Linked DNA regions of Homo sapiens. The protein of the gene in region 1 interacts with the protein of each later gene in a pairwise test. Each region holds a gene or a part of one and is shown in the gene's direction. Other genes may lie near its edges.

Region 1 (7,981 bases):
CGAAGTTGGCCAGAGGCGGGGCTTGGGGGTGGGGGTACAAGTGTGACTGGTGGACTGTGGAGCAGCAGGCAGGGCCCAGGTCCTGGTAGGTCTGCTGGGCTAGGCAAGGTGGGAGGACTTGTCCTAAAGACAACAGCCCTCCACCAAAGTATTGAAGCAGGGGAGTGACAGGCCAGAGTGGTGTTTCTGTACCACGTGTGGGAACAAGGCTGGGAGGGCAAGAGTGGTGCAGGGAGACCTGTGTTCACTTGTGCTTTACGGCTTGCCACTGGCACATCCCATGGGCTTTGAATGAGTCAATCTGTGCAGGGATGCTCATGGCCACAGGCTTCCCGTAGAGGCCTGGCCTGCTGCTCTTGGGTACCAGGGACGTCCTGAGCTTACACAGGGCTGCGAGAACATGCGCACATGTCACAGCAGTACCACTCAGCCCTGCACCCCACCTCTGCAATACCCTGCTCTTACCTGCTTCAGTTTACATTAATGAATATGCACCCTCTCCAGGGCATCAGCAGCACGGCCCTGCACAGTAGCTGTGTGCTTCCAGGCTGGTGCATGTCAGAGAGCCCTCAGCCTCACCTTCCTTGTCCCCTCCTCCTCCTGAGGCCAGACTCATAACCTCTCTCAGAGAAAGGGAGGTGGCACCCTCTGGGAAGCTGATGGAAATGCGTCCCTCATGTGCCCTGGTGAGCATGCCTTCGCATGAGCACACATCAGAGGGACCACGGGTGCACTGCACGTGAAAGGCAGGCATGTGTGATCCCAAATACCTGTTGCAGCGGCGGGCACAGGGAGGCCTGCAGCCCAGGCAGCCCTCCTCTCCAAGTCCTGGTCTCTGCTCAGCACATGGTGATGGGGCTGTTTCATGGGCCCCAACCCTGCTCCAAGCAGGCCTGGTGTCTGGGGGCCAGGTTCAAGACCATCTCCCATGTGGGGCAAGAAGCACCAGAAGTTTCTGTTTCACCTCCCACCAGGTGATCGCCTATGGGCAAGGCAGCAGCGAAGGCCTGAGACAGAATGTGGACGTGTGGCTGTGGCAGCTGGCAAGTGGGGCCCAGGGACAGGGTTGCAGAACCCCCTGCCAGAGGGCATCAGCCCGCTCCTCGGCCCTGGGCTCCCACACGGGGCCCACTCTTGGGGCCTTGGGGCCCAGGCAGACTCAGACATTCACCCAGGTGATGAGGCCCAACAGTCTCCATTTGATTCTCCTGCTCCTCTTCTCCAGGAGGGCTCCTCGGTGGTGACAATGGGGGGACGGCGCCTGAGCCTGGCCCCTGATGACAGCCTCCTGGTGCTAGCTGGGACCTCGTGAGTACGCAGGGAGGGCTTTCCCTGGGATCCTCAGGGTCCAACTCTGTGTGATCCCTGCTCATCTGTGTGTCCACAGGTATGCCTGGGAGCGAACACAAGGCTCTGTGGCCCTGTCTGTGACCCAGGACCCTGCCTGCAAGAAGCCCCTGGGGTGACCCTCTTGCCATGGCCTGAAGCAGCCACAGGTGTGCCAAGCACCCTCGAGTGCCATCCCTGCCAAACAACTCTCCCAGCCCCCACTACCTCTCTGTGTACTGCCGCTGTGTCCCCCACAGACCTGCACATTGTTGTCACCCACCCTCCTGCCCTTCTCAGCCCAGATGCCATGCCCCTGGGCGGGCAGCAGCTCCCCATCTTCTCTGGCAGACTCAGCCCACTGCCTTGCCAGTCTTGCCAGGTGGTCTACCCCCGGCCCCGCTCCTGCCCATTCCTCTGTCCCTGCAGACTCAGTGCAGCACTTCCACACCAAGAAGGCCCTCAATAAAGGCTTCCTGAGGAACGCACACCTGGGGGTCTGCCGCAGGCAGTCATCACTGGCCTTCCCATGTGCCCCCCAGGACCATGTGGTGTGTCTGGGGCATCAGGGCACCAGGTGACCATGGACGTGTTGGAGGGTCTGTTATTGGGCATCCCTGTTTGTGGATGGGCATTCTTCACTGTGTGTGTGACTTGATCCACGCATGCTCCATGCCTGGTCCTGGGAGCACGGCTAATGTCATCTCTCCACTTCCTTCTCTGTTCTCATTTATTCTTTTTACTTTTTTTTTTTTTTTGAAACAGGATCTCACTGTCACCAAGGCTGGAGTGCAGTGGTGTGATCAGAGCTCACTGCAGCCTTGACCCTCCTGGCTCAAGTGATTCTCCCACCTCAGCCTTCTGAGTAGCTGGGACTACAGGCATGCACCACCACACCCTGTTAATTTTTTTTTTCTTTTTTGTAGAGATGGGGATTTCACCATGTTGCCCAGTCTGTCTTTTTACATAACTTTAAAACACTAGCATCTGTTGAGTTTTTTTCCAATAACAGAAGTCATCTGTGCTAACTATAGAAAACCCAGAAATACACAAAATCCCCCACCCAGAGCTAACCACTGTTAATACCTAAAGACTATGATCAGCCTGGAGAGGGGCATGAAGTTGTACCAGGAGCTCAGCAGTGTTGGTGGGGGTGTCTGGCCTTGTGTCCCCTTCCCTCCCCTGTCATGCACAGGTGCCCTGTTCAAAGACTCCAGAGGGACCCCTGAGCCTGCTATGGGTGTCTAGGGATGCTGGAGGCCTCAGAGGCACCAGTGGGAAGAGACAAGAATGTGGAACCTGCAGCGGGCGCAGCTCAGTTTCCTGGGACTTCCGTGAGAAGTCAATGAGGGCATGCACATGAGAGTGACAGATCTGGACAGAACAGGTCCCTGCGTGGACTCAAAGCTTCCTCTAGAAAAGAACACTTGACCCCTGTCTCCCTCATCCCCAGCCCAGTGGCTCACTGCCTTCCTACACTCCACTGGGAGCAGAGAAAGACCTGCCTTTGCTGAAAAGGCTACTGGCCCTAAGAGACATCGGGACCTTCAACCTCCTCGTCACCCCTAAGGGCTTTCCTCTCCTGCAAGCAAAGAAAAAACACCATCAGGCTCCTTCAAACACAAATGGTCCAGGATAGGCACAGGCAGAGGCTCCACGCGGCTCGTTCCTGGCCTGTAGCAATGCACTGCTCCGTGCAGGACCTGAGAAGAAGACATAGAATGTTCCAGGGAGGACCCAGGTCAGAATACCGATGGCCGTGAAGAGAAGAGTTTACTCTCATATGCAGGGCAAGCTTAATCCAGAGAGAAAGTCATGAAAATTAGATCTGTTTTTGTGAACACTCGCTCTGTCCCAAGGAATCCCCTAGAAGTTTGTTTTTTTTTTTTTTTTTTTTTTTGAGACGGAGTCTCACTCTGTTGCCCAGGCTGGAGTGCAGTGGCGCGATCTCAGCTCACTGCAAGCTCCGCCTCCCAGGTTCACGCCATTCTCCTGCCTCAGCCTCCCGAGTAGCTGGGACTACAGGCACCTGCCACCACGCCCGGCTACTTTTTTTGTATTTTTAGTAGAGACGGGGTTTCACCGTGTTAGCCAGGATGGTCTCGATCTCCTGACCTCGTGATCTGCCCGCCTCGGCCTCCCAAAGTGCTGGGATTACAGGCTTAAGCCACTGTGCCTGGCCTATAAGTTTTTACATAAATTATCTCATTTTATCCTCACAACTCTCCAAGAAGGTGGTAGTGCCTGATTTTACAGATCAGGCTCAGAGAGGTTTGGAAATAGGGCAGCTCTGTTTCCAACCCAGGCCTGTCTGCATATGGAGCTTAGGCTGGGCCTCACCACCCTGCTTCTCCCAGGGATGTTTGCCCTCAGCCTTGACCAAATGGGAGCCCAGGGCAGCCAAGAGAGGCCAGGGGCCACTGTGCCTGGGACACAGAGGCCAGGCCACACATGGCAGACTGCTGACCCCAGCCAGTTGGCAGTGATGGGGTCAGGCCCTGGAGCCTGGAACCAGCACCTCCCTTGGCCCTGCTGTCCCGGGTTATCAGGAGCCTGAAGCCCTCATCTCCACCCACAGGACCAGCCCATGGGCTCATGAGAATACCTCACCATGGGACAGCTGGACTTGTACCTTGTCTGGAGCTAGCCCCAGCCTCCCACTCCCTATTCCGCAGTGAATGCTAATGGGGGCAAGGAGTGGAGTGGACAAGGAGCCATGGGGAGACACAGACAGGGAAAAATCAGGATTGTTCTATTTGCGGGAGAAGCCCCCAGCTCCCCGTGCCATGGCAGTAGAAATTTGGCAGGGGCGTCCCCGTCCATGGGGCCTACTTCACCGTGTACCCGGACTTGGGACCATCACAGACTTCGGAACCATCAGGAACCTGGGAGCAACTGAAAGCTGAACTACAGTGGGCTTTCAGACACACAGCAGGCTGGCGGAGCACAAATAGGACTGGTTCCCTCCAGGCCACCAGCAGGGCGGTGGAGGTCTTCACTGACTCCCTGCCTACCTCTCAGGACAATGTCCTTTTGGCTCCACAGTCCCTGAAGCCAGAGCTGGTGGGGGCAGGGAGGCAGCCACCAGCCTCTATATGTAGTGGAGGAGGGGGTGTCCAGGGAGGGCTGCATGATCCTGAGAGCCCCCACCTCACCCGGCTGGACTATCCTCCCACTTCAGGGTTTCTCTGGGCTTCCATCTTGCCCCTGCTGAGCCCTGCTTCCTCCTCTACCAGCAGCACAACCCCCAGGCTGGGCTCAGAGACCTCATGTGGTGGGATCACTCAGTACCCCGAGGCGGAGGGAAGGAGGGAGGGCTGCAGGGTTCCCCTTGGCCTGCAAACAGGAACACAGGGTGTTTCTCAGTGGCTGCGAGAATGCTGATGAAAACCCCAGGATGTTGTGTCACCGTGGTGGCCAGCTGATAGTGCCAATCATCCCACTTTGCCCTGAGCACTCCTGCAGGGGTAGAAGACTCCAGAACCTTCTCTCAGGCCCATGGCCCAAGCAGCCCATGGAACTTCATAACCTGAGCTCTCCATCTCCCTCTCTCTCCTCCTCTGTTCTCCCTCCCTCCTTCTCTCCCTCACCCTCCTCTGCTCCCTCTGCCTTTACCACTGTGGGGGGGTCCTCTGGAGGGCCCTGCCACCCCACCTCTTCCTCGCTGGTGTCTGCCTTCCTGGCACCAATCCTGGCCCTGGAGTTTGTCCTGGGCCTGGTGGGGAACAGTTTGGCCCTCTTCATCTTCTGCATCCACACGCGGCCCTGGACCTCCAACACGGTGTTCCTGGTCAGCCTGGTGGCCGCTGACTTCCTCCTGATCAGCAACCTGCCCCTCCGCGTGGACTACTACCTCCTCCATGAGACCTGGCGCTTTGGGGCTGCTGCCTGCAAAGTCAACCTCTTCATGCTGTCCACCAACCGCACGGCCAGCGTTGTCTTCCTCACAGCCATCGCACTCAACCGCTACCTGAAGGTGGTGCAGCCCCACCACGTGCTGAGCCGTGCTTCCGTGGGGGCAGCTGCCCGGGTGGCCGGGGGACTCTGGGTGGGCATCCTGCTCCTCAACGGGCACCTGCTCCTGAGCACCTTCTCCGGCCCCTCCTGCCTCAGCTACAGGGTGGGCACGAAGCCCTCGGCCTCGCTCCGCTGGCACCAGGCACTGTACCTGCTGGAGTTCTTCCTGCCACTGGCGCTCATCCTCTTTGCTATTGTGAGCATTGGGCTCACCATCCGGAACCGTGGTCTGGGCGGGCAGGCAGGCCCGCAGAGGGCCATGCGTGTGCTGGCCATGGTGGTGGCCGTCTACACCATCTGCTTCTTGCCCAGCATCATCTTTGGCATGGCTTCCATGGTGGCTTTCTGGCTGTCCGCCTGCCGATCCCTGGACCTCTGCACACAGCTCTTCCATGGCTCCCTGGCCTTCACCTACCTCAACAGTGTCCTGGACCCCGTGCTCTACTGCTTCTCTAGCCCCAACTTCCTCCACCAGAGCCGGGCCTTGCTGGGCCTCACGCGGGGCCGGCAGGGCCCAGTGAGCGACGAGAGCTCCTACCAACCCTCCAGGCAGTGGCGCTACCGGGAGGCCTCTAGGAAGGCGGAGGCCATAGGGAAGCTGAAAGTGCAGGGCGAGGTCTCTCTGGAAAAGGAAGGCTCCTCCCAGGGCTGAGGGCCAGCTGCAGGGCTGCAGCGCTGTGGGGGTAAGGGCTGCCGCGCTCTGGCCTGGAGGGACAAGGCCAGCACACGGTGCCTCAACCAACTGGACAAGGGATGGCGGCAGACCAGGGGCCAGGCCAAAGCACTGGCAGGACTCAGGTGGGTGGCAGGGAGAGAAACCCACCTAGGCCTCTCAGTGTGTCCAGGATGGCATTCCCAGAATGCAGGGGAGAGCAGGATGCCGGGTGGAGGAGACAGGCAAGGTGCCGTTGGCACACCAGCTCAGACAGGGGCCTGCGCAGCTGCAGGGGACAGACGCCAATCACTGTCACAGCAGAGTCACCTTAGAAATTGGACAGCTGCATGTTCTGTGCTCTCCAGTTTGTCCCTTCCAATATTAATAAACTTCCCTTTTAAATATATTTATTTGCAAGACCAAATATCTGTCTTTAATTCTAACCTGGGACTGTCAGTAGGCGTCAAAGTGAGCGCCCCAAGGTGAAGGGAAACTTGGGAGAGAGTGGGGAAGCCATCCCACAGCCCCATCCCAGGGGGCACTGTCCTTCCCAGAACTTCTGGGAAGCCCCGGCATGTCCTGAAAGGCAGAACTGCTTTCTTGGGTGAGGCCTCAGGCAGGCCACCAGGGCTCCAGGCCCTCGGGTACAGAGTTTGATGCTGGGGACCTAACATCCCTCCCCAGTTCCCTCAATCCACTTAGCCCAGCCCTCTCATATCATGGACAGGACGCACCCCAGCTACTAAAGTCGTCAGGAATAGAAGTGAAAGCCCAGAAGTGTCACACACAGACCAGGAGGGTGGCATCAAGGGTCCATGTGGATGCTGGGGAGGGAGCGAGAGAAAAAGTATCAGGCAGAGGGAGGTGGGCCCGGGAAGGATGAGCGGGTGAGTACCAGACCCCGCCTCCACCGTGTATCTCCAGCCCACTTCCCTGTTCTGAAAATCTACCTGCTGCACTCAGAAACCTACCAAGGTACTGGGGTGCCACCTGGGCCCCCCCCAGGGTTGCTCTTCTGTCTCTCGGCTCCCCATGGGCCCCTCTTGCCCCCTCAACTCCTACTGCTCCCTTTTACTCCCTGGAGCCACGCCTAGGGGGTCCCTGCTTCTCCACGCCCTCTGTCACCACAGGGAAGGGAGTCCAACCCTGGGCGGGGCCACCTCAGCCTGAGTCAGGTCTTTTAGGAAAGGCCTGCACACTCCTGGAGGATGGGGACTGAGCAGCTCCTTCGGGTGGATCCCCACCTGGGGCGCCAACACTTACCGCCAGCTCAACACCAGGCACCTTTCCTCTGGTACCATCTCTGCCCCTGAATGCGCCCACCTGGGCTCAGGGCAGCTCCACGGGCCATTTCCTCAATCTCCTCTTCCCTGGACCCTTCTCCTACCAACTCCTCCCTCAAGTCCTCGCACCTCTCCCAGCACCTGCCCTCACTCCTTCATGACCTGATGGAAGGGAAATGGACAGATACTCCCATGGTTTGCAGGCATGTCTGCAGTCCTGTCTTTTCCCATCAAGGGAGAGAGCAGAGGCTGCCCTTGAGGAGTTCCTGGGTAGATGCTGGTCACAGGGTTCAGGCCCGCACTCCTAACCTGCCCTGGATTCTCCTTGCTCCCCATCTTGACCCTGAGGACTGCTTCCTCACTGACAGTCTGGGTCACACCACCCTTCCCCGCCTTTCCATCATTTGCAAGGCCTTCTCTAAACGGGGTTGGGTGCTCCCTCGCGAAGCAGGCTTCAGGCTGCCGCCACATGGAGGTAGGACTGACTCCCTGGTCCGAACTATGGCCCCAGCCCACTGTACCCTTCTCTGGACTTAGTTCTCCATCTGTGAATAGGAATAGTAATCCTGGCCCTTGCCCAGCTCCAGGGGCTGGGGATGGGAGTAACTATATGCCCAGAGCACTTGGTGAGGAAGGCAGTTATTATGTGGAGCAGGGAAGGGAGAAGGAAGAGGAGTGGGAAGAGAAAGAAAACTGTGTT
Region 2 (8,870 bases), on another chromosome or scaffold:
GAGAACACTCCTGAGAAGAGGGTGGACCGGATCTTTGCCATGATGGATAAGGTGAGGTGGGGGGGCGGGGCTGGTCCTGGACCAGGGAGGCAAGGTGTCGGGGGCAGGAATTGGAGTCCCTGGATCCTGGGCCTGGCTTTGCTGCCAACCTCCTCCATGGCTCACGGCAGGCGGCACGGTGTCCTATCCCTGCTCAGCAGCTAGCCCCATCCAGTGTCCAGAGTCTTAAGTCAGTTTGCTCAGCATGTTTTCTTTAATCAACCAGAGTCCTTAGCCTTTTTTTTTTGTTTGCCATGGACCCCTTTGGCATTCTGGAGAAGCCTACAGACTTCTCAGCATAATGGCTTTAAGCGCATAAAATAAAATCCATAAGATCAAAAAGGAAGCTGATTATTTTAGAAAACAGCTGTCAGAGTATTTTAAAAAAAGAATCTGTGATGTAGCGTTCTGTGAGCTGCTTTCTTAACGCATTCACTAAGATGTAGTGGTGGGTCCAGCAACCCCCGAAATTGCGAGCTGTAATATCTGCAGCAACTAGGGTGTGTTATGAAAATACCTGTGATCCCTACTGTCGACAGATCACAGGTACTGCAGGTCCTGTTGGGGACCGTCGCCTAGGTTTCCATCAAAGGAAAAGCTACATTTCAGTTAGAGGTTAGTAAAAAAAGGCTGATTTTTTTTCCCCCAAGTTCATAGACCTGCTGACTTCTATCCACAGGCCCAAGGTTAAGAAACCCTTCTCTTTTTTTTTGAGACAGAATCTTCGCCCTGTCACCCAGGCTGGAGTGCAGTGGCGGGCGCGATCTCGGCTCACTGCAAGCTCTGCCGCCTGGGTTCACGCAACTCTCCTGCCTCAGCCTCCCGAGTAGCTGGGACTACAGGCGCATGCCACCATACCTGGCTAATTTTTTGTATTTTTAGTAGAGACGGGATTTCACCGTGTTAGCCAGGATGGTCTCGATCTCCTGACTTCGTGATCCACCAGCCTCGGCCTCCCAAAGTGCTGGGATTATAGGCGTGAGCCACCGTGCCTGGCCAAGAAACCCTTCTTTAAAGGGAACCAAAGCCAGGTGTGGTGGCTCACACCTGTAATCCCAGCATTTTGGGAGGCCGAGGCGGGTGAATCACCTGAGGTCAGGAGTTCGAGACCAGCCTGGCCAACATGGTGAATCCCTTTCTCTACTAAAAAAAAAAAAAAAAAAAAATCCGGGAGGCAGCAGTTGCAGTGAGTGGAGATCGCGCCATTGCACTCCAGCCTGGGCAACAGAGTGAGACGCAGTCTCAAAAAAAAAAAAAAAAATTATCCAGGCATGATGGCACATGCCTGTAATCCCAGCTACTCGGGAGGCTGAGGGAGGAGAATTGCTTGAACCTGGGAGGCAGAGGTTGCAGTGAGCCGAGATCACACCACTGCACTCCAGCCTGGGCAATAAGAGTGAGACTGTCTCAAAAGAAAAAAAATAAAATAAAAGGAACCATAGACACTGGAGCCTACTTGAGGGTGGAGGGTGAGAGGAGGGTGAGGATCGAAACCCACCTATTATCAGGTACTATGCTTATCACCTGAGTGACAAAATAGTCTGTACAGCAAACCCCCACAACACAGGATTTACCTATATAACAAACCTGCACATGTATCCTTGAGCCTAAAATAAAAGCCTAAAAAAAGGGACTCCAAAGAAATAAGGAATCCTTCTTTAAATCAAACTTACTTAAAACTAAAATAACTTAAATGTAAATTTGAAATAATGACGTTAGGGAAATCCAGGTGTTACGTGCCTTCAGCAAAATAACATAAAATGGTCAGGTGCGGTGGCTCACACCTGTCATCCCAGCACTTTGGGAGGCCAAGGCGAGTGGATCACTTGAGCTCAGGAGTTTGAGACCAGCCTGGGCAACGTGATGAAACCCCGACTCTACAAAAAATACAAAAATTAGCCGGGTGTGGTGGTGTGCACCTGTGGTCCCAGCTACTCGGGAGGCTGAAGTGGGAGGATGGCTGGAGCCTGAGAAACCAAGTCTGCTGTGAGCCGTGATGGTGCCATTGCACTCCAGCCTGGGTGACAGAGTGAGACCCTGTCTCAATCAATCAATCGATCAGTCAATCATAGAAATTCCTGTAACGCAGGGCTGCTTATTAGATTCTGGCTGGAGACAGCTGTTTGCCCTAAAAGCTTTGACCTGAGGCCTGTACTTTCTTAATTAAAAAAGGGAGATTAGCCCATGTTAGAGGAGTGGTAGAGACGTGCTGGCCTCAGACCCAGCTGGCGTCTTGGTAATGATCAAAAGATTTATCGACAGAGTGTGGAGCACGGAATAATAAGTTTCTCGTGGTGTGCGTCCACGTGGCTTAAGGCCAAGGCCGCACATTCCTTACTGTCCCCCTGTCTGCACTTCCGTCATTTTGGGAAACAGCACAGACCCTGTAGTCACACTGACTGGGGTGTGAATCTGACTTCTCCGTTTCCCAGCCCTGGGGCCTGGGTAGGTGACGGAGCCTCAGCTTCCTCACTGGTAAAATGGGGATGAGAGCAGCACCCCCTTCTTGGCTTGGCCGTGAGGGTTCCATACACTGAGGGTTGCGCCGAGCTTGGCATATGTCGTGTACGCAGCGAGCGATCCCTGAGCACAGCTCGGTTGTGCTCATCGGCGCTGTTTTCGGCACTTACCCTCTCTGGATACCCGAGATCGAGTAGGTGCTCTCCGTGGCCTTTTCCTTGTGGTCCGCCGGCTTCCTTGAGAGATGCTCCGGGGAAGGGATTCTGGCCCAAACATCCCCTCCCCGAGAGACCCACTAAAATTCCTCTTTCTGAGCCATGTCCAGCCCCCTGCCGGGTCTCCCAGGGTCCAGTGTGGGCTGCTCCAGGAGCAGTTTAAATGCCCTTCCAAGAGTGACCCCAGAGAACTGCACGAGGCTCTCAGCCTTGTCAGTTACTCACATTGATGGGGTTTAATAGCATTAACCATGACACGTGTGGAGTTACAGGGCACTTCCAGTTGGTCAAGCACAGAGCTGTCACCCGAGTGCCTGGAGGAAGCCAGGTAATTACCCTCCATCCCCAGGTGAAGAAACATGCCCAGAGAGGTGGGCCACGGCCCAAGGCCACCCTGCCATGAGTGCCGAGGTCTGTCTGGTGCTGGCTGCTTGTAGGCCCTGAGCCACGTTGCCTCCCTCCTGATCTAACCTTGGAAGGGCTCTTGGGACCGGCCCTGGGCTGGGCTTGTCTAGAGCCCTCTCCTGGGAGGCCCTGCACCCTCAGCCGCCTCTCTCTGCTCACAGAATGCCGACGGGAAGCTGACCCTGCAGGAGTTCCAGGAGGGTTCCAAGGCAGACCCGTCCATTGTGCAGGCGCTGTCCCTCTACGACGGGCTGGTATAGTCCCAGGCTGGAGCTGGGTGAGTGCAGACTCGGGGCCTGGGGTGGGTCTGGGATGGGTCAGGGGTGAAAACCCAGCAGCAGGACACCTACGGTTGGCAGGTAATTACCTGGGTCTCTGGGGGTGTTGTGGTCAGCCTAGCAGGGACATAGCTGGGAGGAGGAGGCTGGAAGGGGGGCCTTCAAATTGGTCAGAGCTCCTCTGTTTTGATCATTTTTATAGACCCAGATCAGCCTGCGAGTTTGCTTGAACAGAATTTTTCTGGGCGCGGTGGCTCACGCCTGTAATCCCAGCACTTTGGGAAGCTGAAGCAGGCGGATCACCAGGTCAGGAGTTCAAGACCAGCCTGACCAACATGGTGAAACCCCGTCTCTACTAAAAATACAAAAATCAGGCGGGCGTGGTGGTGCGCACCTAGTCTCAGCTACTTGGGAGGCTGAGGCAGGAGAACCGCTTGAACCCAGGAGGTGGAGATTGCAGTGAGCCGAGATCGTGCCACTGCACTCCAGCCTGGGTAACAGAGTGAGACTCCATCTCAAAAAAAAAAAAAAAAAGAAAAGAAAAAAAAAAAAAGAAAAGAATTGTCCTGGGTGGAAGACACTTTGAAAATTAGTTCCCAACCAGGGCCAGGGACCTGGGAGAGCAATTTCTTATCCCCTCTCTGAGCAGCCGGTTGAAGACCTAACTAAGCTCCTAGCTGTCACAGAATGATAGCACGCCTGGCAGAGGCCCCTGTTGCTGGTAGAGAGCTGTCTCCCTTCTTTCCTTCTCCTCTCCTCCCTTCTCCCCTTTTTTCCTGCCTCTTCTTTGTGGAGTGTTCAATGTAGTCTGCGGGGAGTGGGTGTGAATAACGTCCAAGGTATTGTCCAGAGATCAGCGTTCTTGTCCACGTCCTGGTGAACCAGTGGATGCCTGCTGTTGGTGTATATGTAAGGGTAGAATTGCTGGGACATAGGATATGTGTAATATTTAGCTTTGGTAGTTACTAGAAAACAGTTTCCAAAGTGGTTGTGCTGTTTTGCGGTCCCACTAGTAGTGTATGAGAGTTCCAGTTGCTCCACATCCTTGCCAACACTGGGTATTTTCTGTCTTTTCAAATTTTAGCCATTTTTGTGAGTATGGAGTAATAACTTGTTCTAAGTTTACTTTGCATTTCTCTGATAAGCAGTGACGTTGAATGCCTTGTTATAAGTGTATCACCCATTTTAATGTGCTCATTTGTGATGTGCTAGGTTAGTTATCCATTGCTACATATTACATTACCACAAACAGCAGCTTAAGAACAAACATTAGGAATTTGGCACAGTTAAGCTGGGTGCCTCTGGCTCAAGGACTCTCAGGAGTATGCAGTTCAGCTGTCAATAGGGTTTGCCCAGGTCTATCCTGGATTTAGCAGTGCAAGTTCCCTGTTCTAGGAAACTTCTCAGTCCCGGGAAAATTGGGATACTTGTCAGCCATTGGCCAGGGCTGTGGTCTCATCTGAAGGTTTGGCTGGTGATGACCTGCTTCCAAGCTCACTCATGTGGTTTGGCAGCCTTGTTCCCTTGCCATGTAGACACCTGCACAGGGCTGCCTCACAATATGGCTGCCGGCTTCCCTCAGAGCTTTCCAAGAGAGAAGGAGAGAAAGAGAGCCAGGATGAAAGCCAGTGTCTTTTTATAGCATAATCTTGGAAGTGATATCCATCACTTTTTCTTTTTCTTTCTTTTTTTTTTCTGCGACTGGGTCTCACTCTGTTACCCAGCCACCAGGTCATGGCTCACTGCAGCCTCAACCTCCCAGACTCAGACGAGCCTCCCACCTCAGCCCTCAGCTTTCCAAGTAGCTGGGACTACAGACATTTGCCACCATATCTGGCTAATTTAAAAAAAAAAGTGTTTTTTTTGTTTGTTTGTTTTGTTTTGTTTTTTTTCTGTAGTGTAGAGATAGAGTCTCACTATGTTGCCCAGGCTGGTCTGGAACTCTTGACCTCAAGTGATCCTCCTACCTCGGCCTCCCAAAGTGCTGAGATTACAGGTGTGAGCCACTGCACCCAGCCATAGATTGGTTTTTGAATGCTAAGTCACCTTGCATTCTTAGAATAAACTCCACTTTGCTGTGATGTGTTATTTTTTTATGTATCATAAAATTTGATTTGTTGGCATTTTGTTTAGGAGGTCTACACTGTTTTTTTCTTTCTTTCTTTCTTTTTTTTTTTTTGAGACAGGGTCTCACTCCATCACCTAGGCTGGAGTGCAGTGACATGATTTCAGCTCACTGCAGCCTCTGCCTCCTGGGTTCAAACAATTCTCCTGCCTCAGCTTCCCGAGTAGCTGGGACTATAGGCACCTGCCACCATGGCGCCTGGCTAATTTTTCCATTTTTAGTAAAGATGGGGTTTCACCATCTTGGCTAGGCTGGTCTCGAACTCCTGACCTCAGGTGATCCACCCACCTCAGCCTCCCAAAGTGCTGGAACTGCAGGCGTGAGCCACCATGCCTGGCCAGGCCTACACTGTTTTGAAGCGTCTGTTATTATTATTATTATTTTTCACAAGAAATCCTTTTTCATTGAAGAGACATTGAAAATATGTTTAATGAGAAAACCTCAATTAAAAAGTTTATTTTAAAAAAAACCCCTTATGTATGACTCAGATATAATCACAGTGAACATTTTAGTGTCCAGAGTGATTTTAAAAGAATTGAACACTTACAAAACTTAACACTCAGTAAACTGAGTCACACAGAAATTATATAATTAAAACCAATTTATAAAGGAACTATCACTGTTATTAATATTTCTTTTTTTTTTTTTTTCCAAGATGGAGTCTCCCAGGCTGGAGTGCAGTGGCGTGATCTTAGCTCACTGCAACCTCTGCCTCCTGGGTTCAGACAATTCTCATGCCTCAGCCTCCCAAGTAGCTGGGATTACAGGTGCTTGCCACCACGCCCGGCTAATTTTTGTACTTTTAGTAGAGATGGGGTTTCAGCATGTTGGACAGGCTGGTCTCGAACTCCTGACCTTGTGATCCACCCACCTCAGCCTCTCAAAGTGCTGGGATTACAGGTGTGGGCCATCGCGCCTGGCCAATATTTCCATCATAGAAATGTTTGACGTGTACCTTGACATGTCCCATGGTGAATGCTGATCCGTTGTCTAATTTTTCACAGTCCTCTTTTGCAAATCACCATGTCATATTATTTCCATGACAAGCTTGTCAAAGTGACAAGAGCCCTCGCATGATATGATCCCCCTTTCTATTAGCTCTGCTGGGAAATGGCCTTCTTTCTTCTATAGGGCTGTTCCTTGTGCCTACGCGGTAGTGATTATATCCAATTTGTGTTCTATCATTTTAATGATTTATTTGCCTCCTCAGGTTCCTGATAGCTCATAATTCCTAGATCACTTGCAGTGATGTAAGTCATTGACTTATTCAGAAACTGAGATGAGGCTTATTTTCCACATCATTAAATGTTGAGCCATCATTTTTCATAGCTGCATAATGCTCCATCACATGGCTGGGCCATAATTTAACCAGTTCCACAGTGTTGGACACTCAGGTTGTTGGGAATTTGGGGAAGGGATTAAAAAGTTATCTATTATGGGCCAGGCGCACTGGCTCATGCCAGTAACCCCAGCACTTTGGGAGGCTGAGGCAAGTGGATCACTTGAGGTTAGGAGTTCAAGACCAGCCTGGGCAACATGGTGAAACCCCGTCTCTACAAAAAATACAAAAATCAGCCAGGTGTGGTGGCGGGCACCTGTAATCCCAGCTATTTGGGAGGCCGAGGCAGGAGAATTGCTTGAACCTGGGAGGCGGAGGTTGCAGTGAGCCAAAACCACTCCACTGCACTCCAGCCTGGGTGACAGAGTGAGACTCTGTCTGAAAAACAAAACAAAACAAATTATCTGTTATGGAAACATTCATACACAGTGGCAGAGAGAATAGTGTAATGCTGAGTGGGCGCCTGTGGTCACTCACACCTATCATCCCAGTGCTTTGGGAGGCCGAAGTGGGAGGACTGCTTTAGGCCAGAAGTTTGAGTCCAGCCTAGGCAACATAGAGAGACTCTGTCTCTACAAAAAATATGAAAATTAGCCAGGTGTGGTGGCACATGCCTGTAGTCCCAGCTACTCAGGAAGCTGAGGCAGGAGGATCCCTTGAGCCCAGGAGTTAAAGGCTACAGTGAACTAGGATTGTACCACTACACTCCTGCCTAGGTGACAGTGTAAGACTCTGTCTCTTTAAAAAAAAAAAAAAGTGTAATGTTTTGTACTCATCACTCAGCTTCCGAATCCCCAGTTCCCTGCCAATCTTGTACCATCTGTGCCCTCCCCCCCCACCCCCACTCTTGTGATTTTGAAGCAAATTCAAGACATCATCATACTTAATCCATTTCAAAATGTATTTCTAAAAGATAAAGATTCTTTGAAAAATTCATAAAGCAAAAGCAATCAATAATTCCTTAATATCCTCTGATCTCTAGTTGCTATTCTAGTTTCCTGTTATCTTACTCTTTTTTTTTTAACTTTGTTTACTGAAATCAGAATCAGAATAAAGTCTACCCATTGTAATAGGTTGATAGGTCTCTTAAATTTATTTAGACCATGTGCAGTGGCTGACGCCTGTAATCCCAGCACTTTGGGAGGTCGAGCTGTGTGGATCACTTGAGCCAAAGAGTTCAAGACCAGCCTGGGCAACATGGTGAAACCCTGTCTCTACCAAAAATACAAAAATTAGCTGGGTGTGGTGGCGGGTGCCTGTAGTCCCACCTACTTAGGGGTGCTGAGGCAGGAGGATTGCTTGAACCAGGGAGGGTGAGGCTGCAGTAAGCTGAGATTGCACCACCGCACTCCAGCCTGGGTGATAAAGTGAGATTTTATCTCAAAAAAAAAAAACTTTAATTTTGTTTATTTTTTATGTATTTATTTTTTTGAGGTGGAGTCTCACTCTTTTTGCCCAGGCTGGAGTGCAATGACGTGATCTTGGCTCACTGCAACCTCTGCCTCCTGGATTCAAGCGATTCTCCTGCCTCAGTCTCCTGAGTAGCTGGGATTACAGGCACACACCACCACGCCCAGCTAATTTTTGTATTTTTAGTAGAGATGGGGTTTCACCATGTTGGCCAGGCTAGTCTCGAACTCTTGAACTCAGGTGATCCGCGTACCTTGGCTTCCTAAAGGGTTGGGATTACAGACATGAGCCACCTCACCTGGCCTGAGTATGGATTTTTGGTTCTTTGGGTATATACCTAGGAGTGGAGTTGCTGGGTCATATGGTTAACTCTATGTTTAACTTTTTGAGGAACCACCAAACTGATCTCCAAACTAGTGACAGCATTTTGCATTCCCACCAGCAAAGGACAGAGGTTCCAGTTTCCCACATCCTTGCCAACGCTTGTTATTTTCCATGAAAAAAAAAAAAAAGGTAGCCATCCTAGTGGGTGTGAAGTGGTTGCCTCACTGTGGTTTTTTGTTGTTGTTGTGGTTTTTGTTTTTTGAGACAGGGTCCCA

Evidence for each region. Proteins that work in one complex are often made in the same cells at the same time.
Region 2: the proteins of OXER1 (region 1) and NCS1 interact in binary tests that used the Homo sapiens proteins (3 or more experiments, as listed by UniProt).

The regions. Positions count from the first base shown.
Region 1 is NC_000002.12:42,760,922-42,768,902, reverse strand, and holds OXER1 (oxoeicosanoid receptor 1), read left to right. Parts: upstream 1-4,767; 5' UTR 4,768-4,840; coding exon 4,841-5,995; 3' UTR 5,996-6,404; downstream 6,405-7,981. Other genes in the region: HAAO (3-hydroxyanthranilate 3,4-dioxygenase), read left to right, coding at 975-1,043, 1,226-1,308, 1,388-1,466. UniProt on the Homo sapiens protein: Receptor for eicosanoids and polyunsaturated fatty acids such as 5-oxo-6E,8Z,11Z,14Z-eicosatetraenoic acid (5-OXO-ETE), 5(S)-hydroperoxy-6E,8Z,11Z,14Z-eicosatetraenoic acid (5(S)-HPETE) and arachidonic acid.
Region 2 is NC_000009.12:130,223,109-130,231,978, forward strand, and holds part of NCS1 (neuronal calcium sensor 1), read left to right. Parts: coding exon 1-51; intron 52-3,280; coding exon 3,281-3,379; 3' UTR 3,380-3,396; intron 3,397-8,870. UniProt on the Homo sapiens protein: Neuronal calcium sensor, regulator of G protein-coupled receptor phosphorylation in a calcium dependent manner. Directly regulates GRK1 (RHOK), but not GRK2 to GRK5. Can substitute for calmodulin. Stimulates PI4KB kinase activity.